5 separate regions of the Homo sapiens genome follow, and regions 2, 3, 4 and 5 are each linked to region 1. The links come from fine-mapping of genetic effects on gene expression. A gene starts in region 1. Each other region holds a variant in brackets. All regions are shown on one strand. Distances are from middle to middle. Region 1 holds the start of SLC43A2 (solute carrier family 43 member 2). Region 2 overlaps SLC43A2 (solute carrier family 43 member 2). Region 3 overlaps SLC43A2 (solute carrier family 43 member 2). Region 4 overlaps SLC43A2 (solute carrier family 43 member 2). Region 5 overlaps SLC43A2 (solute carrier family 43 member 2).

What was found.
Region 2: its variant is fine-mapped to the expression of SLC43A2 in whole blood (TOPMed, PIP above 0.99).
Region 3: its variant is fine-mapped to the expression of SLC43A2 in whole blood (INTERVAL, PIP above 0.99).
Region 4: its variant is fine-mapped to the expression of SLC43A2 in whole blood (TOPMed, PIP above 0.99).
Region 5: its variant is fine-mapped to the expression of SLC43A2 in thyroid (GTEx, PIP 0.96).

What each region holds. Positions count from the first base shown.
Region 1 is chr17:1,625,958-1,632,226 of GRCh38, forward strand. SLC43A2 (solute carrier family 43 member 2) reads right to left here and starts at 2,877. Exons shown (of 14, transcript NM_152346.3): 1 at 2,837-2,877; 2 at 1,758-1,963. The coding sequence starts at 1,917. RefSeq lists enhancers at 1,050-1,587, 1,588-2,125.
Region 2 is chr17:1,583,999-1,590,267 of GRCh38, forward strand. It overlaps SLC43A2 (solute carrier family 43 member 2), which reads right to left. Exons shown (of 14, transcript NM_152346.3): 10 at 1,915-2,053. Among named protein-coding and RNA genes, the nearest start is that of PITPNA, 24 kb to the left of the region's middle. RefSeq lists enhancers at 1,083-1,630, 1,631-2,176, 2,177-2,723, 2,724-3,269, 3,270-3,816 and 2 more. The variant C/A (reference allele first, on the strand shown) is at 3,294.
Region 3 is chr17:1,565,657-1,571,832 of GRCh38, forward strand. SLC43A2 (solute carrier family 43 member 2) reads right to left here. Exons shown (of 14, transcript NM_152346.3): 14 at 3,612-6,176. Among named protein-coding and RNA genes, the nearest start is that of PITPNA, 6.0 kb to the left of the region's middle. RefSeq lists enhancers at 1,332-1,381, 5,769-6,176. The variant G/C (reference allele first, on the strand shown) is at 4,628.
Region 4 is chr17:1,573,331-1,579,209 of GRCh38, forward strand. It overlaps SLC43A2 (solute carrier family 43 member 2), which reads right to left. Exons shown (of 14, transcript NM_152346.3): 12 at 4,920-4,993; 13 at 3,267-3,390; 14 at 1-2,435. The coding sequence ends at 2,274. Among named protein-coding and RNA genes, the nearest start is that of PITPNA, 13 kb to the left of the region's middle. RefSeq lists enhancers at 2,186-2,998, 2,999-3,810, 3,811-4,622, 4,623-5,433. The variant G/T (reference allele first, on the strand shown) is at 2,088.
Region 5 is chr17:1,602,787-1,609,055 of GRCh38, forward strand. All of the region lies in intron 5 of SLC43A2 (solute carrier family 43 member 2), which reads right to left. It also overlaps the pseudogene RN7SL105P. Among named protein-coding and RNA genes, the nearest start is that of SLC43A2, 23 kb to the right of the region's middle. RefSeq lists an enhancer at 3,757-4,522. The variant C/T (reference allele first, on the strand shown) is at 3,028.

The DNA.
Region 1 (6,269 bases):
CAATTCTGCCAAAACCATACAATCAATTAAATCCGTGGACATTCTATTAAAAAAAAACAAAAAACAAAAAACAAACAAAAAACACCTAGAATCTGACCTTCCGACATCATGGTGGGTTAAAAAAAAAACACACAAAAAAACACCTGCCCACAACAGTTCTCTGGTCTGGGTGAGACACTAAAAGCTTTCTCTGGGGACGATGACTTTTTTTCTGCTTTTTTTTTTTTTTTTTAAACCCTGTGTCCAGCCTGAAAGAGCCCACCAGGGAGGCAAGCAGGAAGGGTCACGATCTCTAAGGGGGGAGAGAGGAAAGGAGAGGAAGAAGTAAACACTCCAACCTGTGCCTTTCGGGGACAGGCATTAATCTCCTAACAACTCTTGGCCAAAGCAGAAAGCTTGTTCAGGGAACAAGGTCTGACTCTTCCCAACTCCCAAGATTTCTTGCTGATGTGGGGAAAGACCTGCCAAGAACCCTTAGGCTATTAGGAAATATTTTTGAGTGGCTAAAGGCTAAAGGTTAGTTATAAATGATATACTTTCTGTCCTCTCCCCGCGGCCTCTGCATTCTCCTGCTTTCTCCTGCCCTGAACCTCTCCAGCTAAGCCTCCCTCCCTAGAGACTGGGACACACAGGAATCTCCGGGGCAGATCAGAGAAGGGAAACAGGGAGGCTTCCACAAAGGATTACACCCAGCATGAGCTGGTCCAAAGCTTTCTCTTCCTGCAAAGAGCTCTAGAAAGAAAAGGCCTGCTGCTGGGGATTCAGGAAGTCAAACCTGGGCTACCTCCATCTAAGGGCACTCTAGCACTGGCGACAGGGATTATGTGAGCTCAGCTATTATGCAGCTACCGTTGGGATCAAGGAGAAGGCAGAGGGAAAATTTCCTGTCAAGGTTGCCTAAGAAGGAGGGTAGGAGGCTAGAGGCTGGGGGCTGCTGTGGCCCTCCTGTGGGGCTGAATTTACTGCCCTGTAGTCATCAGGACCCTCCAACAGGGTATGAAGGTGTGAAGGTAAGTGTGTGTTGGGTGGTGCAGATGTCATGTAGAGAAGCATCCTCAGCCTGCCTTCAGCAATTCCAGTGACAAGGCAAAGAGGAGAGAACAACCCTAGCATCATTTCCATAAACGTTCCTTTCTTCTCTTCCCCTTCATCCCCATGGGGTTGGAAAGCCACGGAGATGTCCTCAGAGCCCGTGGGGGAAATGTCCTTTGGAGAATCATAAGGCAGCAAAAATAGACAAGAAATTGTGTCCAGCAAGCACTTAGGAGACTCCACAATGGCCTGAGGAACGTCTAGATTCTAGATGAGCCCTCCCTGGGGTGGAGGCAAGGCCACTTCCTCTCCTGCTGCACCCCAGCCCCTTAATCTGGAGTTCCTCTTTCTCACAAGCAGACAGCAACATGTTTACTACCAGCCAAGCTATGTTCCAGGGCTGGGAGGAGAGGAGAGCAGTCCAGCACTGTTCGTAGCGGGTGGAAGGAACACCCTGGACAGCAGGTGGGGTTCTGGGTGGATGGCAGGCCCAGGCTCTGCGGCCTTGCGCAAGACAGATCGCTCTGAGCCTCGATGTCTTCGTCCACAAAACAGGGGCAATGACAAGTACCCGGCAGGGCTGGGTGAGGATCAGATGGGCCTTCTGATACCCTAGAGGCACTGGGCAATGCGGTGCTGTGGCTCGCTAGGTCTTCGCCCCCATCCCGCCCCCTCCCAAAGCCCCAGCTCCAGGAGCCCCCCGCAACCCCAGGCGCTTGTCTCACCTGGCTCGGTACACAGGTAGGAGTAAAAGCCCTCTGACTTGAGCATGATGAGCAGCGAGCCCCAGCCCAGGAGGACTGCCGAGAAGAGGAGGTTCTCCAGCACGGCCGTGCAGGCCATCCACCAGCGGCGCCGATGGGCAGTGGCCAGGGTGGGCGCCATGGTGCGGCGCGGCGCGGCTCCGGCTCCGGCTCCGGCTCTGCACCACCTGCGCACAGAACTCGGCGTCAGCGGCCGGCCCTTGCCCAGCCCCTGCGGCCGCCCCCAGCAGCCCCGACCGCTGCCGCAGGGCTCGGGATTGCCACCCCTCCCCGGCCGCGGCGGCCGGTGCGCGCAGCAGAGGAAGCGAACCCCAGCCCTGCCCGGACCTGGGACACCCCGAGCCCGCGGCCGGCTCGTACCGCTGCCCTCCGCTACGACAGAGCCGCCCCGGCCAGGCAGGGAGACGTCTCCCGCAGCTCACTCCGAGGTAAACTGAGGCATGGAGGCAAGAAGGGGCTAACGCATGCTCAGGGCCGTGGAACTAGTCCTGGCCTGCAGCAGGACTGACATCGCCTGGGGCCAGCATGGAACGCAGCGTGAGGTGGGCAGGGGCAGATCCGAGGGCTGCCTCTCCCAGGGACCCTGACAGGTGCCCTCCCGCCCGCGCCCGAGACCCTTCCCCAGAGCTGGTTTCTTCAACCACAAGATCAGCGCCCAGACCTACGGAACGGCCCGCCCCGGCGCGCTCATTGGCCGGACGGCGCAGGAACTGCCGCGCCATTGGCCGCCGTCTAGGTCGCTAGGCGCTGCGGCCACGCGAACCCAGCGTGGGAGACGAGGAGCCGGTTCAAACCGGTGGCGCGAGCCAGCCGCGCGACCCCCATCTCGGGCGTTCCCCCGGCAACTCGCCCGTTTCCATGGCCTCGGACCCCCGCGCCTCCATTCCCCAGCCCGCATCTGTTCGTCATCTCTTCCCTGGCGGCCCCTCATCGCTCCATCTCTCTCCTCGTTCCCACGTTTTCTCCCTACGCCCCTTCGGCGGCCGCTTCTGCCCCCGCGCCCTCGCCCCGGCCGCGATCCCCTCCCTGCTGCAGCTCACCCGGCTCCTCCGGCGTGTGTCGGGCCCGCCCGGCGCCTTTTCTGCCCTCTTTTATTCCAGCCCTTTTATTCCGACCCCAAGAAGAAAACACTGCCGCCCGCTGATTGGCTGAGCGGGGCTGGAAACAGGCGTCGACCAATCAGCAGCCAGCCCCCCGCCCGCCCCGCCGCGAGCAGAAGCCGGTTCCGGCCGGACTCGGAGACAAACAAGAGAGATGGGGGACGGGAGGGGCCTGGGCGCTGCGGGCCGGGCCTCGGCTTTGCAGCCTTCAACCCGAGTCACAGCGCGGCCGGGAATCCCCGGCGACATCGCCCCGCGGCCTCTCCAGCGGCCTGACCCTGCGAGGCTGGGGCTCCGGCTCCGCGTCCCGGCCCCCAGCGGACTCCCCCCAGAAGCCGCCGGGCCACCAGCGCCCCCAGCCGGGCTCTCCCGCGGCCGCCCCGCCGTCCCCAGCTGCCCCCTGCGCGCGGGTCACCACGCCCAGATGCGCCGGCTCCGCACGGTGGTTCCACTCTCGAATCCCCACCCCGCCTCCTCCCCACGCAGCGCCGCCGTCCCCGCCGCCTCGGGCTTTGGGTCCTGGTTCCTCGCTCCCCCGCCCCGGTGGTTCCCGTCCCGGCGTATTCGGGGCCTGGGATCCCGGACCCGGTCCAGCCGTGGCGCCCCCCGCTGATGCACCGACCCCTTCCCCTCTCCCCGGTGGCGTCTGCCCGGTCCCTGGAAGTTGGCCCTTGGAAATCTGCAAGGGGATTTGGGGCTGGTCTGTCCCGTCCTAGGATGGGGTCTCCTGAGCTCCCCCCATCAGACTGACCTTTCTCCGCCCGTGTTCACGCACTGCTCGGTCCTCCGGGGACCCTCCACCCTTGATCGTCATCTGGGTGCTCCCTGCCCGCGCTGGCCACCTTCACCCCGTTCCCCGTCCCTTTCAGGGAAGGTCCCCTCTGCAGGGCGATGCTACGGGCCACGTCCGCCAGCTGGTACAAGCTAGGGAGGGTTCGAGGGGGCTCCGGGTCCCCGTCTGATAAGCCCGGGCTCCGAAAGCTCAGCTCCCCGTCTTCGTCCCCCGGATTCGAGGCACTAACCCGACCCGGGAAGACCCTCTGACTGCCCCAGAATCGCCTTGGTCACCCTGGCTCGCTCCGGGGGGCTGGCTTAGCACCCCAGGGCTGCCGCGCGGTGTCCACGTCTGGAATCCCAGCGGTTTGGGAGGCTAAGGTCGGAGGGCCACTTGGGGACAGGAGTTTGAGACCAGCCTGGGCAGCATGGCGAGAACCATCTCTACCAAAATAAAAACCAAAAATAAAACCCCACCACCACCCCAGGGCTGTGGGAGCCCCAAACGCCTCTTGCTCCACCTGCCCCAGTCCGAGTGTGCCCCCTACTGTCTAGAATCCGCCCGGGCCACCTGGCGAGGGCAACCTCCCCCAGACAACGCTTGGAGCTGTCAGCCTGCTGGGGGGCGGCTCCAGCTGGTAGCCTACCCGGTTCCTCACCCTGTGGAACCCTTCCCACTCCCAAGGTTTCAACTGCCATCTGAAAAATCTCTTTCTTCACCCTTCCCTCCTCTTTGAGCAGCCTGACGGCGCTGCAGGGCTCAAACATGCCTCAAATATCCCCCAGAACTGTCCTCCACATTTTCTCTCAGATAACCATACTACTACTGTCTACTGAAGTTAGATACCAAGAACCCTGTCTTTTTTCTTTTTCTTTTTTTTTTTTTTTTTTTGAGACAGGATCTCAGGCACCCAGACTGCTGGAGTGTGGTGGCATGATCATAGCTCACTGCAGCCTCGACCTCCTGGGCTTAGGTGATCCTCCTGCCTCAGCCTCCCAAGTAGCTGGGACCACAGGTGCATGCTACCACACTTGGCTAATTTTTGTATTTTTTGTACAGATAGGGTCTTGCCCTGTTGCCCAGGCTGGTCTTGAAGTCTTGGGCTCAAGTGATCCTCCCACCTCAGCCTCCCAAAGTGCAGGGATTACAGGCATGACTCACAGTGCCCTGCTGAGAACCATCCTTTCATCAGACATTTGTTAGGCAGTCGCTGTGATTCTGCCTCTCCCTCACCGCATCCCCATCAAACTGATACAGCTGTATCTCCTACATATTTACCTAATCGGTCCATCTGTGCCCTTAGGCCCGCAACTACTGTTGTTGAGCCACCTTCAGATTTCAGTTCCTCAAATCCAGCCCCCATCTCATCCCAGGGCACTAAGGGAAATGTAAATGTGACTTCTGCCAAAATCCTTCAGAAACTATTATTTGTAAAACAGGATAAAGTTCCAGTTCCTGGCTGGGCACGGTGGCTCACACCTGTAATACCAGCACTTCGGGAGGCTGAGGCGGGCAGATCACTTGAGGTCAGGAGTTAAAGACCAGCCTGGCCAACATGGTGAAACCCTGTCTCTACTAAAAATACAAAAATGGCTGGGCGCGGTGGCTCACGCCTGTAATCCCAGCACTTTGGGAGGCCGAGGTGGGCAGATCACAAGATCAGGAGTACGATACCAGTCTGGCCAAGATGGTGAAACCCTGTCTCTACTAAAGAAACAAAAAATTAGCTGGGTGTGGTGGCGCACACCTGTAATCCCGGCTACTCTGGAGGCTGAGGCAGGAGAATCACTTGAACCTGGGAGGCGGAAGTTGAAGTGAGCCGAGATCGTGCCACTGCACTCCAGCCTGGGCAACAAGAGCGAAACTTTGTCTGAAAAGAAAAAAAAAAAAAAAGATCTGGGTGATGTGGCACACGCCTGTAATCCCAGCTACCTGGGAGGCTGAGGCAGGAGAATTGCTTGAGCTGGGGAGGCAGAGGTTGCGGTGAGCAGAGATTGTGCCACTGTACTCCAGCCTGGGCAACAAAGCGAGACTCCGTCTCAAAAAAATAAACAAAATTTAAAAGTTCCAGTTCCCCAATTTGACCCACACAGGCTCCTCCCTCTCCCTCCCTCTGAAGGACATCTGACCTGCCTGGTCCCCGATGCTCCAGTCACATGGAATTGCCTGTGGTTTCTGCACCTGCTGTTCTCTCTCCTCTAGCTCGCGACATAGCCTCATTTTGGACGGCACCTCCGCTGGGAAGCCTTCCCTAACCACTCCCCATTAATACTGTTCACTTTATTTGTCCACTGCTGGCATTGTTTTATAATTAGCTATTCGTCTGTTTGCCTTCCTCTCTAATTGACTATGAACTCTTTGGGGGCAGGACGGTGTCTTATTCAACTTTGTATGACCAGCCCTTGATAGAGAAGCAAGCACAAAGCAGTTGCACAATATGAGTTTGTGGAATGAAAACATGAACTCCTGAAAAGGGGCAAATGGCCAGGTGCGGTGGCTCACACCTGGAATCCCAGCACTTTGGGAGGCTGAGGTGGGTGGATCACCTGAGGTCAGGAGTTCGAGACCAGCCTGGCCAACATGGCAAAACCCCATCTC
Region 2 (6,269 bases), 42 kb before region 1:
GATTCTCCTGCCTCAGCCTCCCGAGTAGCTGGGACTACAGGCACGCGCCACCTTACCCGGCTAATTTTTGCGTTTTTGTAGAGACAGGGTTTCACCATGTTAGCCAGGATGGTCTCGATCTTCTGACCTTGTGATCCACCCGCCTTGGCCTCCCAAAGTGCTGGGATTACAGGTGTGAGCCACCGCGCCCGGCCAAGCACCCTCTGCAATTATCTCTCGTGAATGAACGATTACCGATCCCAGTCTCACACCCACGCAGACACCCTGGATGATCCAAGAACGGACCCCAGGTGCTCACAGATGTGCAGGGAGTCCCAGGCCCACCACTTCCTAACTGTGCGGCCCTAGGCAAACTACTGCAAGTCCCAGCCTCAGCTCCCTCATCTGTAAAATGGGTATAACACTGGTCCCCACTTCGCCAGGGTGCTGGGAGTCTTCACTGAGATACTGTGCATGGAGTCCTCGGTGGAGGGCCTCAGGCAATAAACCGTAGCTTATTATATTAAGGTGTGGAGCCATGGAAAACAGCGTTTGGCTGGGCGTGGTGGCTTATGCCTGTAATCCCAGCACTCTGGGAGGCCGAGGCAAGCGGATCACAAGATCAGGAGATCAAGACCATCTTGTCTAACACTGTGAAACCCCTGTCTCTACTAAAAATATATATTAAAAAAATTAGCCGGGCGTGGTGGCGGGCGCCTGTAGTCCCAGATACTTGGAAGCCTGAGGCAGGAGAATGGTGTGAACCCGGGAGGCGGAGGTTGCAGTGAGCCGAGATAGAGCCACTGCACTCCAGCCTGGGCGACAGAGCGAGACTCCGTCTCAAAAAAAAAAAAGAAAAAGAAAAAAGAAAACAGCGTTTAACTCATCCTCTGATCTTGGAGCCCATCCCTTACATAAAGTAGGACTCCAGTACCTTGTTTAATCTTCACAATCATGAACAACTCTATTAACACATAATATGTTTATAGCAACTCACTACTCAAACTGACCGGAATAAACCTTGCAGGCAGATAACAAAGGGTTGGTGGGCTGCATGATTGAATGCAATGAATGAAAGTCACCATCTGAGCCGGGCGCGGTGCCTCATACCTGTTAATCCCAGTACTTTGGGAGGCTTTAAGATGGTGTAGCCACTGCCAAGGGGTGGAGGGAGGGTGGTCTTAGGAGCAAAATGGTCTGCTAGCCATTGTCTGTACACTTTCACCTGTGTCTCTTTTTCTTCCTTCTTACTCAATGCTTCTTCTTTATTGTTTTTTCTTTTTGAGACAGTCTTGCTCTGTTGCCCAGGCTGGAAGTGCAATGGCGTGATCTCGGCTCACTGCAACCTCCACCTCCCGGGTTCAAGCAATTCTCGCGCCTCAGCCTCCTGAGTAGCTGGGATTACAGGCGCGCGCCGCCACCGCACCTGGCTAATTTTTTGTATTTTTAGTAGAGACCGGGTTTTACCACATTGGCCAGGCTGGTCACTAACTCCTGGGCTCAAGCAATTCACTCACCTCAACCTTCCAAAGTGTTGGTATTATAGGCATGAACCACCCTCCCTGGCCAATTTTTAAATTTTTTGTAGAGACGGGGAGTGGGGGCTGGCCATGTTTCCCAGGCTGGTCTCCAACTCCTGGCCTCAAGTGATCTTCCTACCCCAGCCTTTCAAAGTGCTGGGATTACAGGCATGAGTCACCGCACCTGGCCTCAAACTTTAGCATTTCCATTGCATTCCAAACAATTTCCATAAAGAGGGGAGCAGTTGAAACGCATGCTGAGCTGAATGAGTGAGTCTCTCTAAGGGCTCCGGGAGCAGCTGGAGTGCATTGCTCTCTCCCTCTGTCCCACCCACCCTGTGCCTGACATGCAGCTCTGGGGTCTTTCTGCAGGGGCTGCGGGCTGGGAGCCGGGGCACCGGCCCTGCCTACGCACTGGTTGGCGTCTTTCTCCTCGGGCTCCTCGGAGGCGTCTTCACACTCCTTCAGCCTCCAGTCCATGATGTAGCCAATGACGGGGGCCGTCAGCAGGCACAGCAGCTGGAGCACGCCGAAGATGGAGGTGTAGAGGCCAACTGTGGAGGAAGGCGCTGCGTCATGGGGACGCCTGGCAGACAGCCCTGGAGCAGGGACTGGGCACCAGCTGGGAAGGGGCTGGTCCCCACAGGCTCTTCTGGGGTCTGCCCCAGAACCCCCTGTCACTATGGGTCTTGCGAGGAGCCCGGAGACCTTAACTCTGAAGTTGAGGATGGAGCACGGGGCAGGTCACCTTCTTCTCGGTTCCAAATCCCCTGCTTGTTTCTAAGAAACAGCTAATGAAACCCAGAGTGTCACAATGGCCTTCCCAGAGCTCCAGGAAGTCGCTATAACTTGGGAACTCCTGTGACGGAGGCTAAGTGACGGGCCGTTAGTTTCTGTCTCTAGAAATAGCCCAGAACGGCTGGGCGCGGTGGCTCATGCCTGTAATCCCAGCACTTTGGGAGCCCGAGGTGGGCGGATCACGAGGTCAGGAGTTCGAGACCAGACTGACCAACACAGTGAAACCCCGTCTCTACTAAAAATACAAAAACTAGCTGGGCGTGGTGGCAGGCACCTGTAACCCCAGCTACTCAGGAGGCTACAAGGAGAATCACTTGAACCCGGGAGGTGAAGGTTGCAGTGAGCCAAGATCATGCCTCTGCACTCCACCCTGGGCAACAGAGCAAGACTCCATCTCAAAAAAAAAAGAAATATCCCAGAAAGGCACCGCTCACGGGGCTCTGATGTCAGGGCTTCCATATTCAAAGACTTAAAATGACAGTGGATTTTCCAGGGAAGCAGACGAGGAATGTTGATTGCCCCAGTTTTACCCCCACGGCTCTAGCCAGGAGGCATGTCTGGAGCTTGAGGTGAGGAGCTTCTGGGTTGAACAGAGACTGGCTGGGAGGGGACATCACAGCATTCCCTGACAATCCCCCCCACCCCCCGCTTACCCGTGGCCATCACTGCATCAAGAAAGCAAAAGTGAAAAAGCAGAAAGAAGAGAGGTTAGTGGCAGAAATCTCAGTGCTACAGAGAGATGGGAGAGGAGGCAGGCTCACTCCATGCCCAGCACGCACTGCATTTCCCACACTGCGTTTCCCGCACTGCATTTCCCACTAAGCGTGACTCGGGGCGCTCAGGGGAGGCAGAGCTGCAGCCAGGCCTCTGGAAGTGGACTTGGGACAATGCCCAGCCCGGGCCCCTGCTGACATTCTCCTGTCTGCTGGTGCCGGGTCACAGGCGGACTGGTGAATCAGGCCTGTGACGTTGGCGGGTAGCGTGATGGGGAAGTGG[C/A]GGGCATGCGGAAGACCTGGTGCAATCAGGGTCCCTGTCACCACACTGCCTGCGGGAAGCGGCTCTGTCACATCTACCTCCTGCTGTGCTCAGAGAGAGGGAAAGGTCAAAGAACCTGCCCCTGATGCCCAGCCAAGGCATCTGACACCATGGGTCTCCTCCAGATGGCCAGAGCTGGTCTCCCTTCCACTCCAAGAAACGGGGACCATGCCTGGGCCTGCTCCCCTTCCTTGGGCCATGGCCCCCCTGCCACAGAGGCCTGGTGGCCCCTGAGCTGCTGCTCCGAGTGGAATGTCCTGGTCTAGAGGCCCTTGGCTGCTCCAGTGTCTTAAGACCCATATGTGAGTGCTGGCTCTGACCTTGAACAAGCTCCTCCATCACTCCAGGCCTCGTTTTTCAGGTGTATATGATGATAGTATCTATCATAAATGATGACGTAAACAGATGATAGTATCTATTTAACTCCTAGATTGTTATCAAGTCAAGGACAACAATAGGAAAACATGTCACCTGTCAACTCTTACAAAGGGAGGGTAGGACAGGTGGCCCCTGACTAGGGGGTGGGGGTGCAGGGGGCACCCGACCCATCTGGCCAGCCACAGCCTCTGTACCCTGCTCCCATTTTCAGGCCTCAATCCCCAAGCACTGTTGGCCCTGGACTGTTTTCCCCCCTTAATTCTGTTTCTCAATGCCTGCTTCTTCCCAGTAAGTGCCACACCCTGAGGGTGGGTGGGAGAGTGAGGCAGCAGTGCCCACTTTGGCTGGGACTGGGCACTGCTGAGGACAGCATGGGCCACGTCTTCCCCATCTCAAGACTGGCTTTTTGGCTGGGCATCGTGGCTCACGCCTGTAATCTCAGCACTTTGGGAGGCTGAGGCACGTGGATCACTTGAAGTCAGGAGTTGGAGACATGGTGAAACTCCGTCTCTACTAAAAATACAAAAATTAGCTGGGCATGGTGGCAGGTGCCTGTAACCCCAGCTACTTGGGAGGCTGAGGCAGAACAATCGCTTGAACCCGAGAGGCGGAGGTTGCAGTGAGCCGAGCTCATGCCACTGTGCTCCAGCCCGGGTGACAAGAGCGAAAATCCATGTCAAAAAAAAAAGACTGTATTTTTGGCTGGGCATTGTGGCTCATGCCTATAATCTCAGCACTTTGGGAGGCTGAGGTGGGAGAACTGCTTGAGCCCAGGAGTTTGAGACCAGCCTGGGAAAAATAGCAAGACCTTGTCTTTATGGAAAAAAAAAAAAAACAAATTAGCCAGGCATGGTGGCACACACCTGTAGTCCCAGATACTTAGGAGGCCGAGGTGGGAGGATCCCTTGAGCTCAGGAGTCGGAGGCCGTGGTGAGCTATCAGTTGCACCACTGCACTCCAGCCTGGGTGGCAGAGCAAGACCCCAACTCAAAAAAAAAAAAAAAAAAAAAAAGGCGGCCTTTTCCCAGCTGCCAGCACCCTGGCTAGTTAGGGTTTCCCTGAATCCGCAACTCCTGTTTGATGGCGGGTCTCAAACGCTGGGAGGCAGCAGAGTCACCGGTCAGCGGCAAGGCCTGGAGTCTCCATTCGGAACCAGCACCCGGGAGCCTCTGCCGCGGGTGGTCGCGGGGCCGTACGCGGAGGCGATGGCTCTGGTGCTTTGAGCCGTTCCTCAGCAGCACGGCACACCCCCTCCTGCGGAGCCGCAAAGCTCACGAGTGTGCGGAAAGTGACCCGGACCCTGCAGCTGCCTCTCGGCCGGAGCTAGGGCTATGGGTGTTGGGTGTAACGGGTCACAGAAGGAGGAGGGGGAAAACCAGTGCCTCGTCTGCCACAGACCAACCTTCCTGGCCTGGCTTCCTCTACTTCTTGAAATTGACTTTTTGAACATACGAAACAGTTGGAAACATTCCTCCTGGGCAGCAAAAGATTTCTCAGACAGCTTGAGTAAAAGACGCTGACTCAGCAGCAGGGAGATGAGCCTTTCGAGGGCCAGGGACCAGCTCTCTCTGCACACTTTGGGGTTTCCGCCACTCCAGGGCTGAATGTTTATCAGGCTGGGTGTGGAGGTTTACGCCTGTAATCCCAGCACTTTGGGAGGCCAAGAGGGGAGGATCCCTTGAGCCCAGGAGTTCGACACCAACCTGGGCAACACAGCAAGACCCTATCTCTGCAAAGAATTTAAAAATTAGCTGGGTGTGGTGGCGCGCACCTGGGGAGCCCTAAGAGGTCAAGGCTGCAGCGTTCACATCACTGCACTCCAGCCTAAGCAACGCAGAAAGAGACCCTGCCTCAAAAAAACAAGAAAGAAAGAGACATGATAGATTAGGGTTCCCCAAAGTGTGTTCCACAGATATTTTTTTTTCTTTTGAGATGGAGTCGCACTCTGTCGCCCAGGCTGGAGTGCAGTGGCGCAATCTCGGCTCACTGCAACCTCCACCTCCTGGGTTCAAGCAATTCTCTGCTTCAGCCTTCCAAGTAGCAGGGATTACAGGGGCCCACCACCACGCCTGGCTAATTTTTTGTATTTTTAGTAGAGATGGGGGTTTCACAATCTTGGCCAGGCTGGTCTTGAACTCCTGACCTCATGATCCACCTGCCTCAGCCTCCAAAAGGGCTAGGATTACAGGCGTGAGCCACCGTGCCTGGCCTAGACTACCATTTTCACAGTAGAACTGGCTGTTATCTGGTTCCCTTTGCTATCTTTTCCTTTTGATAAAGCTGGATTTCTCATCCCCTAAAAACCTGATAACTGATTCTTCACAAGTCCTAGGGTATCTTCACCTTGATAAAAACAAGGAAACCATCGGAAAAAGTGGCACACCAGGGAGGCTGCCAATAAAAAGGATTTGGAGTGTTTGTCCCGCCTGGGGATGACTAAGGCTGACTCAGCTCAGGCCCCGGGGAAGTCCTGACTTTCTCTGTAGAATCAAAACCTCTAATCAGCTGAAGACCTGCCCTGTTTGGAAAAGTGGACTGTGGGTTATCAGCTGTGTTTGT
Region 3 (6,176 bases), 60 kb before region 1:
CAAGCCGACCTTGGACATCATGTCATCTCACCCCTCCAGGTTACAGTGCACATTCTAGAAATATGCACATTTCTTACAAATGCATAATGCCATTGTCATACTTAACAAAATTAATAATGATTTCCTGATGCTATCTCATCCCCAGTTCATATTCTAATTTCCCTGCTAATCTAAAAAATGCTATAGTTTCCTTTAGAGAAGTTCAGTATCCAGGCAAGGTCCATGTATTTTTTTTTTTCACACTTTATTTTGAGTTACGTTTTTTACATCTTTTTCAATAGCAAGTTTGCTGCAGATGTCCATACGGGTTAGACGCAGGGGTCACACCACTCTCCAGCTGTGCCACACTGTGAGCCAACAGCCCCACCCAGGACACAGACTTCCGCTGCCTTGGAGTCCCAGGCCTCCACTTCCTACCTCTGTGACCTTGTGCAAGTGACTTAACCTCTCTGTATCTCAGTTTCTTCACTTGGGAAATAGGGAACATGCCGGTACCTGCGTCATGGGGCTGCTGAGCCTCCTTGGATGAGGCAATGGACATGAAGCAGCTTTCTGCAGTGAGTGGCATATTTCCTTATTATTATTATTATTATTATTATTATTAATTATTGGGAAAAGGGCGTTGTGAACAAGGAGGGATGGACACCCCTGCCCCTCAAAACTACCTCTAGGCTGGTCACGGTGCCGCACACCTGTAATCCCAGCACTTTGGGAGGCCGAGGTGTGTGGATCACCTGAGATCAGGAGTTCGAGACCAGCCTGGCCAACATGGTGAAACCCCGTTTCTACTAAAAATACACAAATTAGCCAGGCGTGGAGGTGTGCGCCAGTAGTCCCAGCTCCTCGGGAGGCTGAGGCAGAAGAATCATTTGAACCTGTGAGGCAGAGGTTGCAGTGAGCCGAGATAGAGCAAGACTCTGTATCAAAAACAAAACAAAACAAAAAACCTACTTCTGCATTTCTGCATGCTCCAGGCTTAACAGAGGAAAGAAACGAGCAGCTTTCCATGGATCTCTCTCTCTTTGCCTTGCTCCCTCTGTCCGTCCTCTCTCAGTTTCTCAAGCTCCCTCTCTCTTCCTGTTTCTCCTGTCCCTTTCGTATCTCTCTGTCTCTCACTTGTGTCTCTCTGGCTCTCCCAGGCTGTCTCTCTCTGGACCTCTGTCACCCTGTCTCATTCTCTCTCTGTTCTCTGTCCCTCCCTTCACATCTCTGTCTCCCTTTATGACTGTCGTCTCACTTCTCTGGGCTCTCTGCATTTCTGCCTCACCTTTACCTCGCTTCCTGTCTCTCCTCTTTGGGCCTTTCCCTTCCCCTCTCTCCCACTTCCTGTGGTCTCAGTCTTTGTTTTTTTTTTTTTTTTTATTATTATTTTTTGAGACAGAATCTTGCTGTGTCACCAGGCTCGAGTGCAGTGGCGATCTCGGCTCACTGCAAGCTCCGACTCCCTTGTTCAAGCTATTCTCCTGCCTCAGCCACCCGAGTAGCTGGGATTACAGGCGCATGCCACCACGCCTGGCTAATTTTTGCATTTTTAGTAGAGACGGGATTTCACCGTGTTGGCCAGGATGGTCTCGATCTCCTGACCTCGTGATCCGCCTGCCTCGGCCTCCCAAAGTGCTGGGATTACAGGTGTAAGCCACCGCGCCCAGCCCTTGTTTTGTTTTTCTTCTCTTTTTTGAGACAGAGTGTTGCTCTGTCGCCCAGGCTGGAGTGCAGTGGCATGATCTCGGCTCACTGCAAGCTCCATCTCTCGGGGCTCAAGCGATTCTCCTGCTTCAGCCTCCCGAGTAGCTGGGATTACAGGAGCCCGCCACCACGCCCGGCTAATTTTTGTATTTTTAGTAGAGACGGGGTTTCACCATGTTAGCCAGGATGGTCTCGATCTCCTGACCTCGTGATCTGCTCGCCTCAGCCTCCCAAAGTGCTGGGATTACAGGCGTGAGCCACTGCGCCTGGCCAATTTTTTTTTTTTTTTTTTTTTTTAAGAGACAAGCTCTCATTATGTTGCCCAGGCTGGTTTCAAACTCCTGGGCTCAAACGATCCTCCTGGCTGGGCCTCCCGAATTGCTGGGATTATAGATGTGAACCACAAGACCCCATGTTTCATCGTCTCTTTGCGGCTATCTCCTTTCCCCTGTGTCTGCTGTGTTCTATCACAGTCTATTTCTCTCTCTCACTCCTTCGTCTTTTTGTTTTGTTTTGTTTTTTCTTTTTTTTTTTTTGAGATGGAGTTTCACTCTTGTTGCCCGGGCTGGAGTGCAATGGTGCCATCTCAGCCCACTGCAAACTCTGCCTTCCAGGTTCAAGCAATTCTCTTGCCTCAGCCTCCCGAGTAACTGGGATTACAGGTGCCCGCCACCACGCCCGGATAATTTTTTGCCCTTTTAGTAAAGATGGGGTTTCACCATGTTGGCCAGGCTGGTCTCCAACTCCTAGGCTCCAGCGATCCACCTGCCTCAGCCTCCCAAAGTGCCAGGATTACAGGCATGAGCCACGGCACCCGGCCACTCTTTCATCATTGTGTCTGTGGATCTCACGGTTCCAGTTCTCAGCATGGTTTCCCCTGGGTGGTTGACCCTTGGTACTGCGTCGGTTATAGCCAGCCCTGTAACCCATCTCTGGGTGTCCTGGGGAGACTGTATTTCACTGTTTCCATCTTCCGCTCTGCTCTTCTCCCAGCCTCTTAGTCTATTTTAGCTTCTTTTCTGTGGTATTTCTGTCTCTCTCTCTTTTTAAACTTCGTCCCCCAAATATTTATTGAGCAGCTATTCCATGCCAGGCACGATTCTAGGCACTGGGGGTAGAGTGGGGACCAAGGCAGAGCATGCGCCAGCCTTCAAAGAATGTTTTTTTCTTTCTTTTCTTTTTTTTTTTTTGAGACGGAGTCTCGCTCTGTTGCCCAGGCTGGAGCGCAGTGGTATAATCTCCGCTCACTGCAAGCTCCGCCTCCCGGGTTCACGCCATTCTCCTGCCTCAGCCTCCCGAGTAGCTGGGAGTACAGGCACCCGTCACCACGCCCGGCTACTTTTTTGTATTTTTAGTAGAGACGGGGTTTCACCGTGTTAGCCAGGATTGTCTTGATCTCCTGAGCTCGTGATCTGCCCGCCTCGGCCTTCCAAAGTGCTGGGATTACAGGCGTGAGCCACCGCACCTGGACATTTTTTGTAGTTTTAGTAGAGACAGGGTTTCACCATGTTAGCCAGGATGGTCTCGATCTCCTGACCTCGTGATCTGCCCGCCTCGGCCTCCCAAAGTGCTGGAAATGCTCGCCACCACGCCTGGCTACTTTTTGTATTTTTAGAAGAGACAGGGTTTCACCATGTTGGTCAGGCTAGTCTCGAACTCCTGACTTCAGGTGATCCGAGGGGGCTTCCTTTATAAGCAGAATTCACCAGCAGCCTTGGTCTTCCCACCCAAAAGGCCTGTTGCTCTGCCCTCCCACACTCCTTCAAATGGCAATGCAGATCAACCAGCAAATGCAGCCTGGCAGGGGTGGGGGTCAGGAACGCATCCCAGTCAAGGGACAGGGAACCTGGGCACCAGACAAGAGGCGAGAAATGTGTGATCTAGGGAGAAAGAGACACAGGAGCCAAGGAGGAAGCCGCTCGCAGTCATTCTCAGCATACATTTATTGAGTGCTCACTGTGTGCCAGGAAGTAAGCCAGGTGCTAGAAACGGCAAAGGAGCAGGGAAGAGGCGGGTCAGCCGCTGGGTTGACCCTGGTTAATACAGGGTACGGATTAACCCTTCAGGCTCCCTTCCGAGGGCCTGGGCGGGGTCTTGGGGCCGCTCCTGCCCAGGTGTTCTTTCCAGCAATGGAAAGGGATTCAGCGAGGTAAGACGCTTCCCCTCTCCTCCATTCAGAGAGCGGCACACAAGAAATCTACACAGTCTTCCCAACATGTACACACCCTGACATGCCCGGATGCATCTCACACTTAGATAAACACACACGCACACAGTCAGAGGCACGGTCCCGCAGCTGTATGAGGATGCGGTGTACAGGTGCTGCCTACGTGACCGTGCCTTGAGTCGCCCCACTCAGCAGAAACCTCACTCAGCAGAAACTTGTCCACCAGTGATTGATTATCTCGAGCAGCTATTTGGCCAAGTCTTACCAAAACGTGAAAGCCACAAAAGAAAAGTGAACGAGAGAAGAGTTTCTTAAGGCTTTGCTCGGAGAGGGCTTCGGAGAAGGGTGGGGTCAGCAGATACAGACCTTACTTTTTTTTTTTTTTTTTTTTTTTTTGAGACGGAGTCTTGCTCTGTCGCCCAGGCTGGAGTGCAGTGGCACAATCTCGGCTCACTGCAAGCTTCACCTCCCGGGTTCATGCCATTCTCCTGCCTCAGCCTCCCAAGTAGCTGGGACTACAGGTACCCACCACCACGCCCAGCTAATTTTTTTTTTTCGTATTTTTAGTAGAGATGGGGTTTCACTGTGTTAGCCACGTTGGTCTCGATCTCCTGACCTTGTGATCCGCCCGCCTCAGCCTCCCAAAGTGCTGGGATTACAGGCGTGAGCCACTGCGCCCGGCCCTAATTTTTGTATTTTTAGTAGAGTTGAGGTTTCACCATGTTGGTCAGGCTGGTCTCAAACCCCTGACCTCAAGTGATCCACCCCGCCCCC[G/C]CTTCGGCCTCCCAAAGCACTGGGATTACAGGGATGAGCCACCTCGCTGGGACCAGACCTTACTTTCTTGACTTGGCCACAAGTCTGTCCTGCTCAGAGCTGCTGAAAGTGGCTCTCCTGTTGTATGGGCTTGGGTGTGGTGTGGTGGCCCTTTCCCTGTCCCAGCTGCCTTCTTCCTGGGCACTGAAAACGATGCTACCATTGTTTTTTTTTTTTTTTTTGAGACGGAGTCTCGCTCTGTCGCCCAGGCTGGAGTGCAGTGGCGGGATCTCGGCTCACTGCAAGCTCCGCCTCCCGGGTTCACACCATTCTCCTGCCTCAGCCTCCCAAGTAGCTGGGACTACAGGCGCCCGCCACTACGCCCGGCTAATTTTTTGTATTTTTAGTAGAGACGGGGTTTCACCGTTTTAGCCGGGATGGTCTTGATCTCCTGACCTCGTGATCCGCCCGCCTCGGCCTCCCAAAGTGCTGGGATTACAGGCGTGAGCCACCGCGCCCGGCCAAATGCTACCATTGTTAAGTGCCAGGCGTCCCACCATGCGGGTCTTCACTGCGTATCCACGTAGCTGCACCACGCAGGCATTCTTTCCTCCCTTTTGCAGATGATGGCACCAAAGTTCAAGACTCGCCCAGGGCCACCAAGACAGTCCTCTAGACTTTGGTCTTCCCTCCTTGCCTCCTCGGCCTGGGGTGGTGGCGCCTCGGTCTGAGAAGGGTCGAGGTCTGGGTGCTGCTAGTGGCCCTGGCTCAGTCTCAGAGCTGCCCGGAGGGGGTGAGGATGGCTAACTTAAGGAGCACAGGCAGAGGCTTCCTGCTGGCAGGAAGAGGGCTGAGCTGCGGAAGGCCACCCAGGTGGAGTGTGCTGCACCTCCTTCAGTGGCCTTCAGGAGCTCTGTCCTCACCCAGGGATTGGGGTGAGTCAGGGCATGGGGAAACAGGCTCACAGAGCCCACCTGCTCACCCTGACCACCCCACCCCAGGGGACCCCAGGCTCCTAACTCTCAGAATCCCACAGTCTGTATTGGCGGAAGACGGGCTGGCACCCTTGAGTTAGGCCCCCAGTCGTTGGCACAGATAAGGGGAGCTGCTGCTGAAGGAGCCCGACGGCTGATTCTGTGGAGGCTTCTCAGAGCTCCTGGCAGGAGCCCCTCACCGCAGGAGGCCCACAACCCCTCCCAGCTGCATATCGGCTCACATTCACGCGGCTGCCACACAAGTGCGTCGGAAACTCCACTTGGCTGAACGTGATTGTGCTGCTGTCTGGGACAGTCTTATGCACGTGAGCCCAATACTGGATGTCCCGCCATTTTCAGCCCTGGGGCCTATGGCAAAGTGACGCCCCCCTCGGAGTGCACGGCAGGCAAGGAAGGTTTAAACGGAAGTTCTGACCAGGACGATGCTGGGTGCAAGAGGGGACGGGGATGGAGCAAAACAGAAAGGATCCACCAGGGCCTGCAACCACGTCTTTGGCCCCGGTGAGGGGTGGGACCTTGTGTATAGGTCCAGGCAGCAGCAGCTGCAGACAGAGGCCTAGAGGGTTTGGAGAAGG
Region 4 (5,879 bases), 53 kb before region 1:
TGGAACCAGCACCCGGGAGCCTCTGCTGGGGGTGATCATGGAGCCGCACGTGGAGGCTGGTGGCTCTGATGGTTCGAGCCGTTCCTCGGCAGCACAGCACACCCGCTCCTGAGGAGCCACGGAGCTCATGAGCGTTGGCAAAGTGCTGTCAGTGCTGGCTGTAAGGAAACAGGCTTGACTTTTAACTCAGCCTTTCCCAAACTTGACTATAATACTTTCTTGAAAATCAGAATAACCACTAACATCACAAAACGAGTGTTCTCAGGAGTGGGCATGTTTATCTCGTTCTCTTTTTTTTTTTCTTTTTGAGACGGAGCCTCGCTCTGTTGCCCAGGCTGGAGTGCAATGGTGCGATCTCGACTCACGGCAATCTCCGTCTCCCCGGTTCAAGCGATTCTCCTGCCTCAGGCTCCCGAGTAGTTGGGATTACAGGCGCACGCCACCACGCCCGATTAATGTTTATTTTTAGTACAGACGGGGTTTCTCCATGTTGGTCAGGATGGTCTCGAACTCCTGACCTCAGGTGAGCCTCCTGCCTTGGCCTCCCAAAGTGCTGGGATTATAGGCGTGAGCCACCACGCCCAGTCTTTTTTTAAATATTTGAGTGAAATAAAGCCTAGGAGATATGTGTTCCAGGCGCCCAAGCTGTTAATGTGGAGCTTGAATGTGGCCTGGACCTGCCCTTTCCTCTTCTCCTTTCATCCCCCTCCCTGCCGCCCACATCCTGAACTGCTCTGAGCCTGCAGAAGAACCCAGCGGGAATCTTCAGGGTTGTGGAAGGGTGTAGGGATGGAAAGGGACCAGGATTCGCCTGTTTGGCTGGGAAAATCGGTAGAGGAGGGTGGCTCACACTTCTAAGATGTCTGCACAAGCCCAGTTTGTTTGGGGGTTGGGGAGGAAGGTCTTTTCCTGGCCCACTGTCCCTCCCGAGTCAGCAGTCCCCCAGAGAGACGAAGAGCAGCTGGGCACGGCTGGAGCTGGTCGGTGGCAGAGAATCTTGTCCTGCCTTTTCTTCTCAAGCTCAAAATAGGCACATGCAGCTATTAACTGATATGCCAGAAGGGGCATCCCTTACCCGGAGGAAAATGGATTTATTGCTTTATAAAAAAGAAGTCTAATAAAACTGAAGAGAAAATAACTAAAAATCCAAACACAACTCACCCCTCTAAGCACGCCCAGGAGGTCTCAAGACACACTTCTGGGGGCAGTCAAGGTGGGCGGGTTGGTGGGCCAGGCGGACGGGCCTCCCCCGTCATCAGCTCCAGGGCCCCACGGAGCCCGCCGGCAGGGGGTGCTGTGGGCCTGTGGCCTTGGACAAGCTCCTGGCCCCACGCCAGGATGGCTCCTGGGCACTGGCCCAGCTGCAGGCCTGGCGGCTCCCGCCTGGTCAGTGGGGATAAGGGCTAACTCCTAGAGCCCACCCCGACCCCACACACACCTCGGACCCACCCACGTCCCCACCCCGGCCTGGACCTCCACGTCTGCCGGCCACAGCCTTTCGTCCACCTCCACAAAAGCAGCTGTGTGTATGTACGGGGTGCCCTGGCGGCGGTCCTCAAATTCCCTTCAGGTGGCAGACAGAACGAGGGTGACAGTGAAAACGTGTCCGCGGCATTGGCCCTCGGGGAGGAGGCGAGGGGTCCACCCAGCCCGCTAAACCCTCTCCAGGGCATAAGCCAGGTGGGGCTTCTCCACCGGCCTCCAACGGGTGGGCAGGCCCTGGACAGGCGACAGGGGGCTGGAATTACAAAGGAATTAGCACCGACAACAGGAAGCGGGTCCTTCCTTCCTCAGGCAGCCTCAGGCTGGCCGGGGAGGGGGTGGGGGCCAGGCGCGGGCGAGACAGTGCAAGCCTTTGTCCTCAGGCAGGTACGGCTGTGGGCATGCAGCCGAGGGGCAGGTGGCAGGCAGGGGATGGCAGCCCCCTCTGCTTTGGCAAGAGGCAGAATCCAGACACTGGCGGGAGAGCGCCTGCCTGCCGGGCGTTCCTGGCTCCTGCTGCAGGCACCACAGAGACCCCAGGCCCCGGGTCCCCGGGGGGCGGCAGAGCAAAGTCAGGGCAGCCCCTGCGTTCGGCAGGAGAAAAC[G/T]CGCGTGTCCGGGGCCCTCTCCCGTCCTTCCACCACAGAGCTCCGAGGCAGGGCCCCGGGAGGGAGCGTGAACGCTGGCACGGAGACGGCGAAGGTCCTGGGGGTGCGTGGGGTACTCTGGAGGGGCAGGACAGGGGTCAGTCACTGAAGCACAGGCAGGAGACCGCAGTTCCGAGGCGGCAGCCACTACACGAAGGCCTCCTGGTTGGACGAGCCGTTGATTTTGAGGAAGAGTTTGTCATCCTCCTGCCTCTGCTGCAGCTGCCGCTCCAGCTGGCGCCGGTAGCAGATCAGGTAGAGCGGGAGGCAGAAGCCCAGCAGGCTGAGAAGGAGCAGCCCCACGTTCACCTGGGGAGGCAGGGAGGCCGCGCATCACAGGGCGTGGTGGTGCGCCGAGGCTGCAGACCCGCCCTCCACTCGGGTTTGGGAAAGGGGAGAAGGTCACGGGGTGGAAGGGGGAACGAAACAGGAAGGCCCACGAGGTCCCATATGCCAGCGTCCCGGTTCCCAACTCTTCACAGGCCATGTGGCCACCCTCAGGGCCTGGGCCCCCAGGAAACACGGGCTGATCTGAACCTCTGGGCTTGGAACAAGTTCCTGGTACCTGGTGAGGAAATCTGGCCCTCGGAGGTGGGGCGGGGACAGGAACTGTGTTCTTTTTTTTTTTTTTTTTTTTTTTTTGAGACGAAGTCTCGCGCTGTCGTCATTCAGGCTGGAGTGCAGTGGCGCAATCTCAGCTCACTGCAATCTCCGCCTCCCGGGTTCAAGTGATTCTCCTGTCTCAGCCTCCCGAGTATCTGGGATTACAGGCACCTGCCACCACACCTGGCTAATTTTTGTATTTTTAGTAGAGACCTGGTTTCACCATGTTGGCCAGGCTGGTCTTGAACTCCTGACCTCAAGTGATGCTCCCGCCTCGGCCTCTCAAAGTGCTGGGATTACAGGTGTGAGCCACCGCGCCCGGCCCAGGAACTCTGTTCTATTTCTCCCCAAATCAGGTCCAGAGAGGACATGTTCCTTTTCCTGCCTAGCCACCATTCACAAAGGGACTCTTAACCAATCCTAACCAACGCTCCCACATGTCCTCGGGGCCCTGAAGCCCCCGAGGGGGACCTTGCAGCTCGCAGTTAGCAGAAGGGGGCAGGCGCCCATGACCCACCATCCCCCGACCCCTCTTACCCACAGAGGGTCTCCCTGGAGAGGACCCATCATGGCCAGAAACAGCGGCTGCTGCAGAAGGGCGAAGAGCGCGCTGATCAGAGACTGCAGTCCCGTGAGGCTGCCGAACTGGGTGGAGGGGTACCTGCAGGGCAAGCGACAGCTCACAGCCATCCTGCCTCCTGGGCTTTGCTTGGCCCCAGGTGTCTGGTGACCCCGGGCTGCACCGTTGGTGCCAGAGAAGGGTGGGGTGCCAGCCCTCGGATTCCTTCCTGCTGGGCAGTTCTGTTTTTTTTTTTTTTTTTTTAAGATGGAGTCTTGCACTGTCGCCTGGGCTGGAGTGCAATGACACGATCTCGGCTCACTGCAACCTCCGCCTCCCCAGTCCAAACAATTCTCCTGCCTCAGCCTCCCTAGTAGCTGGGATTACAGGCGCCCGCCACCACATCTGGCTAATTTTTTGTATTTTTAGTAGAGACGGGGTTTCACTACGTTGGCCAGGCTGGTCTCAAACTCCTGACCTTGTGATCTGCCTGCCTCGGCCTCCCAAAGTTCTGGGATTACAGGCGTGAGCCACCGCGCCCGGCCCTGCTGGGTGGTTCTGCAAAGTGTTTCTCTTTGGACCAGCTCCAGGCCCCAGACTCTGGGGAGGGCCCACCCCACTCAGCTGTGCCCAGGGCCTGTGGGTGTCTGGCTGAGCCGAGTGGAAAGCGTGGTGCCAGCGGGGACCTGCGGTTTGGGAAACAGGCCCAGAGAGGAGTGTGGAGGCTGGGCTTGGCTCTGCAGTGCCCTCGTCCAGAGAAGCATTGAGTAATCGCGGAAACTCAGCACCACAGATCCCGCCCCCCTCCCTCAGACCCTGCCAGGACAGCCACAGCTTCCTCCAGGCCTGGGGAGGGGCAGGCGGAGGGCAAGCGGAGCTGGGATTACCCCAGGGGCTGTTGCGGGAATTGGGAGAGAGTTCCGGGCTAAATCTTAGCACATGTCAGGCTCTGCTGGCCCAGAGGTGGGAAAGGAATCCCAGCAACACATGAGCTGGTCCCACATCAGAGACTGTGGATGATGATGTTTGAGTTTCAGTTTTTGGGTCAAGGCCTGAGCCAGAGAAGAAGGAACCACTGTGGTTCCTTTTATGTTTCTGGGGCTTCTTGGAAAAAGATACAGGTTTCATTTTAGCCAGGGCTGGAGAAAGCTATGGCCAGAGCTGGGCGCACTGAGGCTCTGGATGGGCCCGTCTGGTGTATTCTGGACTCAGTCACCCATGTTGCTGCCCGTGATGAGGGCAACTGGAACTTCCGCATTTAGCTTCAGGCAGCCAGAACCTACCCATCCTTCCCAGTGAGCAGCCAGGGCCAGCCCCAGGACTCGGCTGTAGTGGCCCCTGAGGCCATAATGAGCTGCACAGGTGCCTGACCCTGGCTGGGGGAACTGACTTCGTGTTGAATGCCAAGGCTTGTGAGCACCCAACTGTCTGCCCACTGACCTGCTTCCCACGAGGTATGGCCTTTCCCTGAAACACCCAGCAGAAACCCTGGTACCTGTCCCCTGAAGCAGGAAGATGAGCCCTTCTGGGACAGGCTGACCCTGCCTCAGAGTCTCAGTCCCACCAGCAACCTCCCCCCGGCCATTCCCACACCCTCGCCCACCAGGCCACCTGCGGCTTCCAGGACTTACACGGCAGCGTACAGGCCCCCGACAGCGGAGTGGATGAATCCTCGCACGATTGTGTGCAGGATGAAGGAGAGGATCTGGGGGAGGAAAAGGCGACTGTGGGCATAAGGCCTTAAGGGACCGTCCCCTCAGCCCCCGCCCTCCAATTCCTGGGGGCCCTCACCCCAGGGGCAGTGTCAGCCTGGAGTTGGATCAACCCCATCCTCCGGAGCCAATTGTGAATTTTCAGAAATTTTGCAAGCCAGTCGTTAACACAGTCATTTTTTGTTTGTTTGTTTGTTTTGTTTTTTGTTTTGTTTGAGAAGAAGTCTTGCTTTGTCGCCCAGGCTGGAGTGCAGTGGCGTGATCTTGGCTCACTGCAAGCTTCGCCTCCTGGATTCAAGCAATTCTCCTGCCTCAGCCTTCGGAGTAGCTAGGATTACAGGCCCACGCCACCATGCCCGGCTAATTTTTGTATTTTTTAAGCAGAGATGGGGTTTCACCATGTTGGCCCGGCTGGTCTCAAACTCATGACGTTGTGATCCACCCGCCTCAGCCTCCCAAAATGATGGGATTACAGGCATGAGCCACTGCGCCCAGCCTAACCGAGTCATTATTAAAAATTAAATTATAGGCTGGGCAAGGTGGCTCACGCCCGTAATCCCAGTGCTTTGGGAGGCCGAGGAGGTGGATCACCTGAGGTCAGGAGTTCGAAACCAGCCTGGCCAACATGGCGAAACCCTGTCTTTACTAAAAATACAAAAAATTAGCTGGGCGTGGTGGTGGGCACCTGTAATCTCAGCTGCTTGGGAAGTTGAGGCAGGAGAATCGCTTGAACCAAGAGGTGGAGGTTGCAGTGAGCTGAGATCACGGCATTGCACTCCAGCCTGGTGACAAAGTGAGACTCTGTCTCAAAAAAAAAAAATAATAATAATAATAATAATTAAATTATAAGCCGAGAATGGTGGCTCACACCTGTAGTCC
Region 5 (6,269 bases), 23 kb before region 1:
TCGCTCTTATTGCCCAGGCTGGAGTGCAATGGTGCAATCTCGGCTCACCGCAACCTCCACCTCCCGGGTTCATGCGATTCTCCTGCCTCAGCCTCCCAAGTAGCTGGGATTACAGGCACCCGCCACCACACCCGGCTAATTTTTGTATTTTTAGTAGAGACAGGGTTTCACCATGTTGGCCAGGCTGGTCTCGAACTCCTGACCTCAGGTGATCCACCCGCCTCAGCCTCCCAAAGTGCTGGGATTACAGGCGTGAGCCACTGCGCCCGGCCGAGGGTTTTAAAGATCATAAATAGGGTAGGTATTAACAATAGTTACTATTATGATATGTGTTATGACTTCATAACAGGGAAAATCTTCTGGTCAAGCTGCTCCTGGGCATAGCCAACGAGGGAAGTGTCCTCTGGCAGGAACCACAGCTCTGGGAGGAAGAAAAGGAAGCCGACTACAGGATAAAACACAAATTAGTATTCCCCTTTAAATAAATAATTAGTGTCCACAGAGATGGCCTTTCTTCTCCTGTCCTTGTTATTCTGTTGTGACCACACATTGACTGCTGTCAGGATGTTTATGCTTTGGGTTTCACTGGTCAAGGTCATCCTTCATGTTCTCTTCAGAGAGGTTTCATTTGACACAAATGCTAGGTACTCCCTAAAAGCTGAAACACACTTTTGACCACCTATTTAAAAACTTTTATTGGTCAAAAAACACCATGAGGCCGGGCGCGGTGGCTCACACCTGTAATCCCAGCACTTTGGGAGGCCGAGGCAGGGGATCACCTGAGGTCAGGAGTTCGAGACCAGCCTGGCCAATACGGTGAAACCCCATCTCTACTAAAAATACAAAAAATTAGCCAGGCGTGGTGGCGTGCACCTGTAATCCCAGCTACTCGGCAGGCTGAGGCAGGAGAATCGCTTGAACCCAGGAGGCAGAGGTGGCAGTGAGTTGAGATCGCGCCATTGCACTCCAGTCTGGGCAACAAGAGTGAAACTCTGCCTCAAAAAACAAAACAAAACAAAACAAAACAAAAACTTAAAGATTAGAAAAGTCAAGGGACTCCCCCAAGCTAGTAATGGTCAGATTGGGGATTCAAGCCAGGCCAAGCCTCTGTGTGTAGGCCCCAGGCCACGCTGCCTCTCTGGAGTCTCCTGTGGCTCCGGCCAATACACACTTCAGTTTGGATCCCACGGCTTTTACATGTGCCTTATTAAGATCCAATCTGCGCCCTTCAACTAGAGGTTTATTTTTCATTCATTTACTTATTTATTTTTTGAGACAGAGCCTCACTCTGTCGCCAAGGCTACAGTGCAGCAGCACAATCTCAGCTCACTTCAAGCTCCACCTCCCTGGTTCAAGCGATTCTCCTGCCTCAGCCTCCCGAGTAGCTGGGATTACAGGCATGTGCCACTACGCCACGATGCCCAGCTAATTTTTTTTTTGTATTTTGAGTAGAGATGGAGTTTCGCCATGTTGGCCAGGCTGGTCTCGAACTCCTGACTTCAGGTGATCCATCCGCCTCGGCCTCCCAAAGTGCTGGGATGACAGGCGTGAGCCACCGCGCCCGGTCATTTTTTTAAATTTGTTTTTGGAGATGAGGTCATGCTGTATTGCCCAGGCTGGAGCGCAGTGGCTATTCACAGGCATGATCCCTCTACTGATCAGCAGGACACTTTTGACCTGCTCTGTTTCTGACCTGGGCCGGTTCAGCCCTCCTTAGGCAACCTGGGGGTCCCTCACCCCCCGGAGGTCACCACACTGATGCTGAACTTAGTGTAGACATCTCATCAACACAGCACGCTATTGTGCAGAACTCCTGGGCTCAACTCATCTGCCCACCTCAGCCTCCTGAGCAGCTGAGACTACAGGGGGATACCACAATGCCCAGTCCCCAACTAGAGATGGCTTACATTCCTTCTGAAGCTCCTTTTAGACCCATCTGCCCCCTGCCCTCACCTCCTGCTGTTGCCTTCGGCTGACCTCCCCATGGTCCAGCGCCACAGCATCGGATGGGCTTGCATTTGCCTGTGGACTCCCGTAGGTCATCCTGACATCTGGGTCACTCCCCACATTCCCCCTCTCGCTCACTCCGTCCCCAGCTTCCCTGCCTCCACCGGTCTCAGCTGCGCATAATGGCTGTTCGAAGCCGCGGTGCCGGAGTGAGGGCTGAGCGCTGAGCAGAGCGCCCTAGCGCGGGCCTCGAGGGCTGGCGGAGGGGAAGGACCCCAGGAGGGGAAGGACCAGCTTTGCTGCCAAGCAGGAAGCCGGAGCTGTTTCCTGACTCACCACCACACTCACAGGTGGGAGTGCAAGCCCCTCTTCCCGCCCTCAGGTGCTTCCCACAGCCCCCTCGCCGCCTCTGCCTCCGTGCGGGTCAACCTGTCCTGCCAGCCCGGGCTGTTCACTCACTGCCTCCACGCAGCCTCAGTCACACAGGGAAGCCCGTGACTCTCTCTCTTTCAGCCCCCTGGCTGCAGCATAAACAGGCCGGACTGTGTGACCTTCCCAGAGGGGAAAACAGCAGCTGCAGGCGGCCCCTCCCCTGGCATTCTGGCCATAGAGCATGACCACCGGACAGGAGTGCCTGCAGGGCCAAGGCCCTGGGACAGTGCGGGCGCGGGAGCTTCTCTAAGATGCCGGACGTACGTGCCTTTTGGCCCAGGGCAGGCCATGGCATTGCTGGCAGGCAGAAACAAGGGGCAACCGTGGCACCCCCGGCCCTGACTTTCCACATCCACGGACTCCCGAGTCCTCCCTGGCCTGCAGGAGGCTGGGGAGCTGGGTGGTGGGTGGGGGCTGCGGAGCTGGGAGGTGGGTGGGGGCTGGGGAGCTGGGTGGTGGGTGGGGGCTGGCATTCTGGCCCTCGGGTCCCCTCCAGAGGGAGCCTTGTCCCCAAGTGGCTGGAGTACACACCCAGAGTTCTGTACAACCTGCACAGGCCGGGATCCCGGAACCAGACTGCACAGGTAGACTCTGCCAGGCTGGGCTGTTTCCTACCCACAACAACCGGGCACCTCCAAGCACATGCTG[C/T]CCGGGACAAGGTCCTTGTGGTCACCTTTCTGCTTCAGTGCTGAAGGGAGGGGAAGGGTGTGCTCCCCTCCCCCGGCCACCTCCTGTGCCTTCCCGGCCGGGTCCAGTCCTGCCAATACCGCTGCCCTTTCCGTCTGAACGTGGTCACATACTGCAGCAAATTCATGAGGCAGAACCCTCAGATGGCAAATTCTCCCCAAACCAATGGCAAGTAGCTGACTGCCTGAGCTTCCCCAAGGTACAGGACAGAAAGAGAGGAAGGTGGGGAGGCACAGCAGGCACTGGGCACTGGCAAGTCCCGCTCACCAGGCACCTAGACCCTCCAGAGCTGGCCGGGGGCCACCGCGGGACCCTCTCCTGGACCCTCCAGAGCTGGCCGGGGGCCACCGTGGGACCCTCTCCTGGCTGCAGACGCGGGGTCTACTGAGCCACGGCACTAAACTCCTGTCCCCTCTCTGGGGGCATCTGCCATCCTGCCCTCCTCTCCAGGATCTGAAGAGGGATGTTTATCCTCTTCACTTCCCTCAGATCCCACCTCCCATGAAATCATGCCTTCCTCAGGTTTAAAGTCAGACTTGAAGGAATCAAAAGGGAAAATCCACAGAGAAATGTCTCATCGGGGAGCCTGGCAACATTTTGAAACCCGCTTTTCTGTGTGGCTTCTGCTGAGAAATCCCCATCCCACCCACGGGGACAGGGGTCAGAGTAATGGAGTGGAAATGGCAGGTTCACAATTTTGGCTACAGCTGCTCCCATCTCTAAGCAACCCAGGCTCCGGGTTGGAGGGTGGCGACCCCAAGATGCGGCCTCAGCCGCCGGCCGTGTTTGTGCTCCAGCCGATGAAGCGAGTGCAAAGGGCTGTACAAACGCGAGGCACTGAACAAACACTGAGCGTGCCGTCCAGATGTCCCGGGGGAGGCTGAGGATCCACACCGTGGGGAGTGCTCTGCCCCCATGGAGTGACCTGGCGTCCGCCCTCCACGGATGGCACGCGATGGCCCAGGCCCTGTGCTGCAGGGCCCTGGGAGAGCCAGCACTGGCTACTGGGCAGCCTACCTGACGCGACAGCCACCCTTGCCCCTCGGAGCCTCCACTTGGGAGGGAAATACCACCATGGGTGCCGACCTCTTGGGCTCTGGAAGGATGGCTCATGGCCATCTCCTTCTGGACTACAAGGAAAAGGCGTGTGCCCGCTTGGAGCCCCCTCTCCTACCAGTGGGGGTAACAGCTCGCAGCCCCTGGTCATCTGTATTTAGACCACAGCCCATGCAGCACAAAGGCCCCGGGACCCAGGAAGTCCCCGAATTAAGGCTTCCACAGCGCCGTCCCCTAGAGTCCTGGGTTATCACAGAGCTATTATCCACAGCCCCAACATGGTTGTTGAAGATTGGAGTTAGAAATTCCTAAAGGCGACCCTGGAGACTCCTTTGTCCCCCAAATTAGAACACGGGTGGGAGACACAAACAGAAAGTGCCATTGTGCCCTGAGCTTGGCGTCTCTGGGAGCTGATCCCGACAGTTCTGCTTTCTGAAGTCCTGGGTTGTATCAGAATGAGATTCGGCTCTGCTCAGCAGAAGCCCCAGTCAGCCCAAGAGTGTTGCTTAACTGCTTCAGCCCTGTCCTCACTGACCTCATTTCCCTTTTGGGGTCTGTTCTCAAGGAGCAGGCACTGGAGCCCTCATCAGAGGCCTCAGGGGGCAGGGGAATGCCCATGGAACTCCCTCCACCCTGGGGGGAGGCAGAAAGAGATGACTTAGAAGGAGAGCTGGCCCATGCAACCAGAGGGTGTGGGTGTGAATGGTGGGTGTCAGCACATGCCCTCAGACGAGGAACAGTGACGTAGCAGCTTCCTGGGGCCTCTGGACCAAGGGTTGGCAAACTTTTTCCATAAAGGGCCAGACAATAGACTTTTTTTTTTTTGAGTCAGAGTCTCGCTCTGTCACCCATGCTGGAGTGCAGTGGCACAATCTCAGCTCACTGCAACCTCTGCCTCCCGGGTTCAAGCAATTCTCCTGCCTCAGCCTCCTGAGTCGTGGGGACTACAGGCGCCCACCACCACATCTGGCTAATTTTTGCATTTTTAGTAGAGACGGGGTTTCACCATGTTGGCCAGCCTGCTCTCAAACTCATGAGCTCAGGTGATCCACCCGCCTCAGCCTCCCAAAGTGCTGGGGTTACAGGCGTGAGCTAGTGTGCCTGGCTAAGACAGTAGACCTTTTGGGCTTTACAAGCCATATGGCCTCTGTCACGACTGCGTTGACTCTGATGAGATACCACAAAAGCAGCCACAGACAGGAGCAAACAGGCACAGCTCTACCCCATGAAGTTTTGTTTACAAAAACAGGCAGTGGTCTGGATTTGGCCTGGCAATGGCGGTTTGCTGACTCCTGCTCTAGATCAAAAAATGAAAACCTTGAAGAACAAACCAACAGCCTCCCTTAGACAGACCTCTGGTAGCCAAACGCTTCAAATGGTGATCAGGTGACTCTCTTGCCTGGTCACTCTCTAGCCTGTGTAGCTTTTTGCCTCCAGTGGGAGAGCAAAGAGTGAATAGAAACGCTCCTGCCACAGTGGTTTGTGTGTTTTGTTTTTTTTTTTAAGACGGAGTCTCACTCTGCCACCCAGGCTGGAGTGCAGTGGTGCGATCTCAGCTCACTGCAACCTCCGCCTCCCGGGTTCAAGCAATTCTCCCACCTCAGCCTCCCGAGTAGCTGGAATTACAGGAACATGCCACCATCCCAGGCTAATTTTTGCATGTTTAGTACAGATTGGGTTTCATCATGTTGGCCAGGCTGGTCTTGAACTCCTGGCCTCAGGTGATCCACCCACCTTGGCCTCCCAAAGTGCTGGGATTACAGGTGTGAGCCACCGCACCCGGCCACCGCAGTGGTTTTTAGCCTTCACACAGACCTGCCAGAGGCCAGTGAAAGTAATGGACCCTCCCCTCCAGAAAGACACAGCTGAGCAGCACCTACACACGCTTTGTTGGCATGGAATTTCAAGGGTGTGCACGGCTCTCCTGAAGCTTACTCATGGACCATGTAGAGACCTGAAAACCCCAGGGTAAGATCTCCTGCTCACTCGGAAAGAACACTAGTGTCTTTGTATTTGAAAGAGCTCTTACGAGTCACTAAATACTAATAATAATAAAATCAAGAGCACTGTAGAAAAATAGACAAATGACACAAAGAAGCAATTCACAGAAGAAATGCAATTTACCAATAAAGAGGAGAAAAAATGCT